2 separate regions of the Homo sapiens genome follow, and region 1 is linked to region 2. The links come from fine-mapping of genetic effects on gene expression. A gene starts in region 2. The other region holds a variant in brackets. All regions are shown on one strand. Distances are from middle to middle.

Region 1 (4,392 bases), 61 kb before region 2:
GTTGTGTAAGGATGAATGAGTTAATACAAGAAACATTGCTCCAAATAGTAAGCACTATCAAATTCTCATTACTCAAAATGTAAAATGTGGAACCATGTTCAATAAAAGTTAAAGACTACAACAACCCGATACAGACAGGACCCATAGGGACAGCTCTTCAGTAGTGGAGATTTGGGCCCCAACCAGGTAAGGAACTCTGCCCAAATGAAGTACAGGCTGAGGGCAACAGGAACACAGAATGAGTAAAGGGAGAAAGATGCCGTATCTACTGTGATATCATAACCTTTTTAAAAAATGATGTGGTGGCTCATGCCTGTAATTCTGGCACTTTGGGAGGCCGAGGAGGGCAGATCACTTGAGTTCAGGAGTTTGAGACCAGCTGGTCAACATGGTGAAACCCTGTCTCTACTAACAATACAAAAAATTAGCCAGGTGTGGTGGTGTGAGCCTGTAATCCCAGCTACTCAGGAGGCTGAGGTGGGAGAATCACTTGAACCTGGGAGGTGGAGGTTGCAGTGAGCCAAGATCGTGCCACTGCACTCCAGCCTGGGCAACAGAGCAAGACTCTGTCTCAAAAAACAAAAGAAACCAAAACCAAAACAAAAAAGGTAGGCATATTTCCTTCCTTGCGTGGTAATGTGTATATACATACTCACGGACAGGCACACGGGTATTTTTAACCCCTTCCCTTCAACTATTTTCTATGAGGAGAGTGGGTGGTGGTTAATGTTATAGGCTAGTTTCTAAATTATACAAAATCCAGTTGGGATTCTAATTAAAAGAGGCATTAACATCACCCACAGATGAATACAGTAACTGTAGGGACTTTGTTTACTCTTTCCTGCCAGAAAAGTGAGAACACTTCTTTTCTTTTCTTTTTTTTTTTTTTTTTTTTTGAGGAGGAGGAGTCTCGCTCTGTCCCCCAGGGTGGAGTGCAGTGGCGCAATCGTGGCTCACTGCAACTTCCGCCTCCCGGGTTCAAGTGATTCTCCAGCCTCAGCCTCCCAAGTAGTTGGGACTACAGGTGCCCGCCACCACCCCTGGCTAATTTGAGAGCATTTTCTTTTGTACAAAGGATAGCTGCATCACGTTGGGTGGAAACAGGAAGCTGCTGCTGGTGTATGGAAATTTACATATGATTGAAGGGTGGATCTGGATGCTCAGTCACCACAGGGAGGTGTTTCTCTGGTGAGCTCGGCCATTCCTCTGTACTCCACTCTCTACTGCTGGGTAGGAGCCTGCAAACTATGTTGCCCAGGTTTCTCACCAGCTGGCTTTCTATTAGGTTTTGCTGATTGGAGACCGTGGTGTCAGATCAGAAGATAGGAGGAAGAGAAGTTCCTGGGTTTGTCTGCAACTGCAGCAGCAGTTACTGGTGGTTGTCAAGTGGCATCTGGTTTTTGTTTTTGTTTTGTTTTGTTTTGAGATGGAGTCTTGCTCTGTCACCAGGCTGGAGTGCAGTGGCGCAATCTTGGCTCACTGCAACCTCCACCTCCTGGGTTCAAGTGATTCTCCTGCCTCAGCCTCCTGAGTAGATGGGACTACAGGCACCCCCTACCATGCCCAGCTAAGTTTTGTATTTTTAGTAGAGATGGGGTTTCACCATGTTGGCCAGGATGGTCTTGATCTCTTGACCTCGTCATCCACCTACCTCGGCCTCCCAAAATGCTGGGATTACAGGTGTGAGCCACCGTGCCCAGCCTGTTTTTTTCAGTCAGAGTCTCGCTCTCTCACCCAGGCTGGCGTGCAGTGCCACGATCTCCGCTCACTGCAGCCTTGACCTCCCGGGGTTCAGGTGATTCTGCCATCTCTGCCTCCCAAGTAGCTGGGACCACGGGTGCGCACCACTGCTCCCAGCTAATTTTTTGTTTACTTTTTGTAGAGATGAGGTCTCACTATGTTGTCCAGGCGGGCCTCAAACTCCTGAGCTCAAGCAATCCACCCACCTTGGCCTCCCAAAGTGCTGGGATTACAGGTGTTAGCCACCGTGCCTGGCCCAAGTGGCATCTGGGCAGTGGTGGTGACTCTGGCAGCTCTAGCAGTGGCAAAGGCATAAGTTTTCAGAGGACTTGTATACAGTATCTAATGCTGTGTACAAGTCTTCTGAACTGTGTACAAGTCTTCTGAAAACTTAATGACTTTTTAATCTTTTTGAGAGACAGAGTCTCGCTCTGGTGCCCAGGCTGGTGTGGGCTTGTAGGTTCCAATACAGGGCTGTTAGCAGCTTCCTGATGTGCAGCTTCTCTGCACGTAATCCTTCCTTCTCCAGGGTACCCCTTCTTTTTTGTTTGCCAGCCCTCCCAACATCTTTGTAACAAAATCCCTACATTAAGTTC[C/CATTT]ATTTATTTATTTATTTATTTATTTAATTTTATTATTATTATTATTATTATTATTATTATTTTTTGAGATGGAATCTTGCTCTGTCACTTAGGCCGGAGTACAGTGGCACGATCTTGGCTCATCGCAACCTCCACCTCCCAGGTTCAAGCAATTCTCCTGCCTCAGCCTCCTGAGTAGCTGGGATTACAGGCATGAGCCACCACACCTGGCTAATTTTTGTATTTTTAGTAGAGATGGGGTTTCACCATGTTGGCCAGGCTGGTTTCGAACTCCTGACCTCGTGATCCACCCGCCTCAGCCTCCCAAAGTGCTGGGATTACAGGCGTGAGCCACTGCAGCCAGCCCCTTCTATTTATTATACTTAGGGTTGTTTTCATTTTTCTTGACTAGATTGTGCAGTGGCACAATCACAGCTCACTGCAGCCTCAACCTTCTAGGCTCAAGCAATCCTCCCACCTCAACCTCCTGAGTAGCTGGGGCTACAGGTGTGTGCTACCATATTTTAAAGTTTTTGTAGAGATGCGGAAGTCTCACTATGTTGCCTGGGCTGGTCTTGAACTCCTGGGCTCAAGCGATTTTCCCACCTCAGCCTCCCAAAGTGCTGGGATTACACGTGTGAGCCACCACGCCTGGACAACTCAATGACTTTAAATGACAATGATCATTTTCTTATTCTCCCTCACACTTCCAAAAGCTGACTGGGCTTGGCTAGGCAGGTCCTGCTTGGGCTCTCTTGTTCTGTCATAGTCACAGTGGCTGGGGCTGGAGTTAAAGGCTTGCTCACTCACTTGTCTGGCAATTGATGTTGGACATCAGCCAGAACACCTCCATGTGGCCTCTCCCAGTGGCTTGGGCACCCTCACAACATGGCGGCTGGGTTGCAAGCCAAGTGTCCTGAGAGAGAGCCGGAAGGAAGCTGTGTCACCTTTTAGGACCTAGCCTTGGAAGTCATAGAGCATCTCATCTGTTATATTCTACCTGTTAGAAGCAAGTCACTAAGGCCCACCGACATTCAAGGAGGGAAAATGAATGCTACTGCTAGGAGGTGGGCCAAAGAATTTGTGAACATATTTTGAAACCGCTACAGGGAGCATCTCCAGCAACACAGCAGCAGGTGTGGGCTTGTAAGTTCCAGTCCAGGGATGTTAGCAGCGTCCTGATGTGCAGATTCTCTCCACGTCATCCCTTCTTCCTCCTCCAGGATACCCCTTCTTTTTTGTTTCCCAGCCTCCCAACATCTTTCTAACAAATTCCCTATATTAAATTCCTTCTATTTGATATACTTAGGGTTGTTTCCATTTTCTTGACTAGACTGACTAATATATGAGGGACTATCCCATGCCATCTAAACTCACCATCTGAACTGGATAGCAGAGATACTATCATGATGTGCCAAGAACCACGTTAGGTAATTTACGTTATGTCATTTAATTCTAACACCAAACCTGACAGATGGGTATAAGAATACCTACATCATAGATATAGAAACTAAGGTTCAGAAGGGTTAAGCAACTTGACCAAGGACACAGCTGGAAAGAGTTGAGAACCAACTCCAGGTGTGACACCAAAGTACATTTATTTCTTGAGCCTTCTGGAATGAGAAGAGCTACTTACTCCCGAAGAGTTCCACTTCCCTCAGAGAAAGTCTTACCTCTCCTCCTTATATGGCTTTTTGATGAATCACCTTAGATTGAGGAAAAGGAAGAATACATCTGGGGCAGTGGAACACAAAGACACAAGTATTCATCATTTGTGAAAACTGCAGGCTGTGTGAGAAAAGGCACTACACTGGAGTCTGGAAGCCAGGGTTCAAGCCCCAGCAATGTTACTCACATATGTTGGGACCCCAGGCAGTCACTTCCTCTCCAGAGGCCTGATTCCATAGCTGGAGAGTGACCCTGGTGTTCTGTGCTCCAATGAGTATCTAGTTGGTAAAGTATCTACTTTGGGAATATAAAAAGCTCTATCAGATACAGAGGACAGAAGTTAAAGTAAAATAAAGCCAGATTATAGTGGGTCTTGAATAGGCTGAGGAAAAATTCGTATCGTATAAGC
Region 2 (4,382 bases):
TGGGTAACATACGCAGTCACTCCATTTATCCTCAGCACAACCCTACAAGGTAGCTACTGCTATTATCTCAATTTTATAAGAAACCAAGGCACAGGGGATGCTCTTTGCCCAAGGACACAGAGCTTGTGAGTGGCAGACCTAAGAGGTCTGGCTCCAAACTGTGTGTGCTGAACCACTGCACTACACTGCCTTTCACAAATGTAGCTAAATGTGCTCCGCTTTTCTTCTGGATCAAATTAGCACCACCTGGATAAACTCTACAAAATACTATATAAAAGGAAGTCAGTTATTTTATCTCTTACCTATTCACCAACCACTTATTGAGTACATAAGTAATGAACTCTGACAGGCCCTAGGGTAGAAGTATAGAGCTCAGAGTCTACTGGAGAGAATAAACAAATTATCACTACATTGACTTGATAGAGGAATGCAAAATGTACTAACTGCACTCAGCATAGGGATCAGATCAGGGGCACAGGAGGGAGAAATTCTCCTAGAGATGACAAATCTGAGTCTTGAAGGACACGTGAGTTAAACAGACTTGCTGGAAGCACTGGGGGAAGCACAGGGAAGGGTAGGGAGCCGTGTTGGAGGAAAGTGCTCTGTGGATATGGGAGCCAGCATGTTCTGGAAGCTGCCGTCAGATATGACTGAAATAGAACACATTTATGCGGTGGGAGATGAGATCAGAGAGGGAGGCTGTTTGCCATGCTAGAAAATTTTCCTGCAGAAGAGCTGACTGGAGAGAAGAGGGACTAAGGGGGTGGGGGAATTAGATCTGAAGCCATGGCAAGATTCCAGGGGAGAAATGAAATTATATTAGCTAAGGCGCTAAGGATGGGGACTGATGTGAGAAAGATGTAGGTGTTGGAATCTACAACTTGTTCACTTGAATGTAAGGAATCAAAAGTGAGGGAATGGGAAGGAAGGACCTTTTCTTGCAGGGAATTCCAGGTCTATTCAAAGGAAAACCTCCATGGAAGAATGAAGAGGTGGCCATCAGGAGGCTAACGCCTGCTCTGTAGAGTGTGACTCTACAGACCACTGGGGACACTTGAGATTTGGTGGCGAGGCAGGTATGGAATAAACATGTTTTTTAAAAATGTGTAATTATGTTAAGGTAAATTCGGGAAAAATAACTAGCCTATAATAACCTATAATTTCTCATATGCTGCCAATTTAAAGAAAAATATTAAATAGTAGTGTAAGTGGGAAACAGAGGAAATCCAAGCAACAGCATAGATGGCCTCACCAGGAAGTGAACAGGCAGGATGTTAATCAGAAGACAGACTACAGTCAGGTATCCAGACGCAGGGGGCCCCATTAAAACCTGCACACTGAATTCTGCAAATTACAAGGAAAACTGTACCCTTACTGAGGCTGTGCTGAGCCAACTCTGAAAAGTAACAATGCCTAGTCTCAAACAGACCGTTGTTAAAAGTGCTGAGCGAGGGTAAATACACTGGTCACGCACTAACTTTTGATGTTAGTTACTTTCACTGCACCTGCCCTGGCCCTACAACCAGTCCGCCAACTTCCTGAAGTCAGAAGATCATTTTGCATTTTCTCCTACATTTATAGAGGTGACTCTCAACAAACTTGGCTGCGCATTAGAATCACCTGGGACGTTTCTTAAATTCCTGAAGCCCAGGCCTCATCCCAAACCAATTAAATCAGAATCTCCATCGGCGGAAGCCGAGCATTAGGATTTTCTTAAAAGCTCCCCAGAAAATTCCGATGTCCAGCCGACTAAAACACTGAAAGAACCTGATAACGATTTCTTTTCCTTTCTTCCATTTGCCCCTGCAGCAGTTTTTCCTTCTGCCTAACTGCTTCTCCTGCTCTAGACCCACGTGGATTCCTAAGTATCCTTCAACACCGTCGCTTCAACTCGCGCTGTCGTTATACTAGGAAGGCAGGCCTATGGTTCACTCTGCTAGTGGACACGTGGAGTGTGCAGAGCGGACAGGCAGCTCTCCGACTCTGAAGGAATCGAGGGCAAAACGGGACTCGTGAGAACAGACAGTTCCCCGTCGTGGGGCTGCCCGGGCTCACCTTCTGGTCTGAACTCGGCCCTGCCTGGCGGTACACCCCGGAGCCGTAGACGAAAGCCAGACTCAGCTCCTCGGGGAAGTGAGACAGGATCTTGCGGAAGGTCACCCACGAGCTCTGCAGCGTCTGCAGCGCCATGGGGTCGAGGCTAACAGGGGACACTCAGCGCAGCAGGGCGAGGACAACCGGGCGGGGAACAGACACCGGGTAGGCGGTTTAGGGTGGGAAATGGAAGTCGGAGACTGGATCGAGGGACACAAGGCTGAGTGTGGGGTGGGACTGCAAGCACACGCAAGGATTGGGGCGTTGGGCCACGAAGAGCAGCGGCGAGAAGACGCAGCCCAGATAGGCTCGGGTGGGCGGCGGTCGCACAGGCAGAGCTTCCGTCCCTTGCTACGCCCCACGCACGCACAGGCGCTTCCAAGACGCAAGAGGCGGTGCTCGCCTTAGTGTGGGGAACGCGAGGCTTTGCATTGTCCCCTCGTGGTCGGAGGAGTGCCCTACAGGCTGGCGGCTAGGTTGCGACTTGGACAAATCGGCGGAGGCGAGCGTCACCCGACTCCGCGGGCCCTGAGCCTTGATAGCCTCTGTACTTCTCTCTTCAAACTACGGTTTAAAGAATGACTATAAAATCGGGAGCGTATTGAAGGTTTTTAAGTGAGGCGACACTCACATAATATGGAACTAGCCGTTCTGAAATGGACAGTGTAGTAGCATGTAGTGCCTTCACAATATTGTGCCCCCATCATCGCTCTAGTTCCAAAATTGCAGATTTCGAAGATTTGGAAAAACACAAAATTAAAATGATGCCCAATCCCGCCATGTAGAGAATACCACCGTCAAGATTTGACGGAGACTTCTTCACGCTAAAGCCCTTTTCAAATACAAGGGTGGATATGGGAGTGCACAGACGTTCTCTGATACTTGCATTTAATTTCAAGGGTGGATCACAGTTTTTGCCCCCTTGCCTTGTGGAATGGTCTCACAAAGGGTGCTTCAAATGCAGTTTCTGGAGGAAACAGGACCCTAGGAGTAGAAAAATCTTACAGCTCTCCTCTTTGTATAACTGGAGAAACTTGCTGAAGATTACCATTCAGGAGGTGGTTTGACTTCCAGGACAGAAACTTTTTCAACTACCCTCTCCTTCCTCCCCAAAATACACTACCTCTCAAAAATAATAGAAATAGTAATAGCTAACATTCAGGTAATGTTGACACATTTTCACATGCACTTCTCACTGAGCACCCTCTAGTGCCCTGTGGCAGGAGGGCCTTGGTTTTACTGATGGCCAAGCTAAGGCTTAGAGAGGTAAAGCCAGGTGATAGGATCACATCAGCCTGTGGCAAAACTAGAGCTAAACCCAGGTCTGGCTCCAACTCTGGGATTTTTTCGGAAATTCTGCTCTGTCCTTGAAGGGTTTTGAGCAAGGACTTATGTAATTCACATGTTAGCCTGAATTGTGGGGGACTGATTAGACAGTTGTTATCATAGTTCCCCCATGAACTGGAAACGGCTAGGCCAAGGTCTTAGGAGCAGGGATGGGATTAAATCAATTGGAAAAATGATTACTTGCACTCACACTCTGGGCCTGCACTGAGATGAAGAGATCTGAGCTGCCTGCTGCCCTGCAGGAGCTAGGGGTCTGTAGAGGAGAGGAGACAGAACTGCAAATCAGAGTAGAATTTGGGTAATGCAGCCAGGTACCCAGCACAGTGCCGGAATGTAATGTCCCTCCAATGGGAACGTCAGTCAGTTCTGGGTGTTGGGGAAAGGGACCAGAAGAGGTTTCACAATGATGGCATTTTGAGCCAGGCCTGGAAGCTGGGTAGGAGTTTATCAGGTAGAAGATAGATGGGAAAATTCAACCAAGAAAGAATTGAAAGGACTCGGTGACAATAATACTAATAATAGGTGTCATTATTAAGCACTTAGTATGCCCAGGCACTTTTTAGACTTCTTTGGGGCTTTTCTGTTTTTGTTTTTTTTTTGAGACCGAGTCTTGCTCTGTTGCCCAGGCTGGAGTGCAGTGGCACGATCTCAGCTCACTGTGACCTCTGCCTCCTGGGTTCAAGCAAGCATGCCTGGCTAATTGTTGTATTTTTAGTAGAGATGGGGTTTCACTGTGTTGGCCAGGCTGGTCTCGAAATCCTGACCTCTAGTGATTTGCCCACCTCAGCCTCCCAAAGTGCTGGAATTACAGGCGTGAGCCACTGCACCCAGGCTTTTTATACTTGTTTCTTTTCATCACTCCAGAGATCCTATGAGGCAGGTTCTCTAAGATGATGATATTTTTCATACGAGGAAACAGAGGTCCTAAGAGGAGCAGTAAA

Direction of the effects. Alleles are on the strand shown, and positions count from the first base shown. SD is a standard deviation of normalised expression in the study named.
In carriers of allele CATTT in region 1, the expression in memory regulatory T cells of the gene that starts at base 2,439 in region 2 tends to be lower than with C alone (large effect, 0.91 SD a copy in Schmiedel 2018).

Evidence for each region. PIP is the estimated chance that this variant, and not a neighbour inherited with it, causes the effect.
Region 1: its variant is the best candidate, but not a certain one, in a credible set for the expression of TAMM41 in memory regulatory T cells (Schmiedel 2018, PIP 0.50).

Annotation. Positions count from the first base shown.
Region 1 is chr3:11,783,922-11,788,313 of GRCh38, forward strand. It overlaps a transcript of TAMM41 not described here. Among named protein-coding and RNA genes, the nearest start is that of TAMM41, 61 kb to the right of the region's middle. RefSeq lists an enhancer at 1,248-1,803. The variant C/CATTT (reference allele first, on the strand shown) is at 2,337.
Region 2 is chr3:11,844,447-11,848,828 of GRCh38, forward strand. TAMM41 (TAM41 mitochondrial translocator assembly and maintenance homolog) reads right to left here and starts at 2,439. Exons shown (of 8, transcript NM_001284401.2): 1 at 2,056-2,439. The coding sequence starts at 2,190.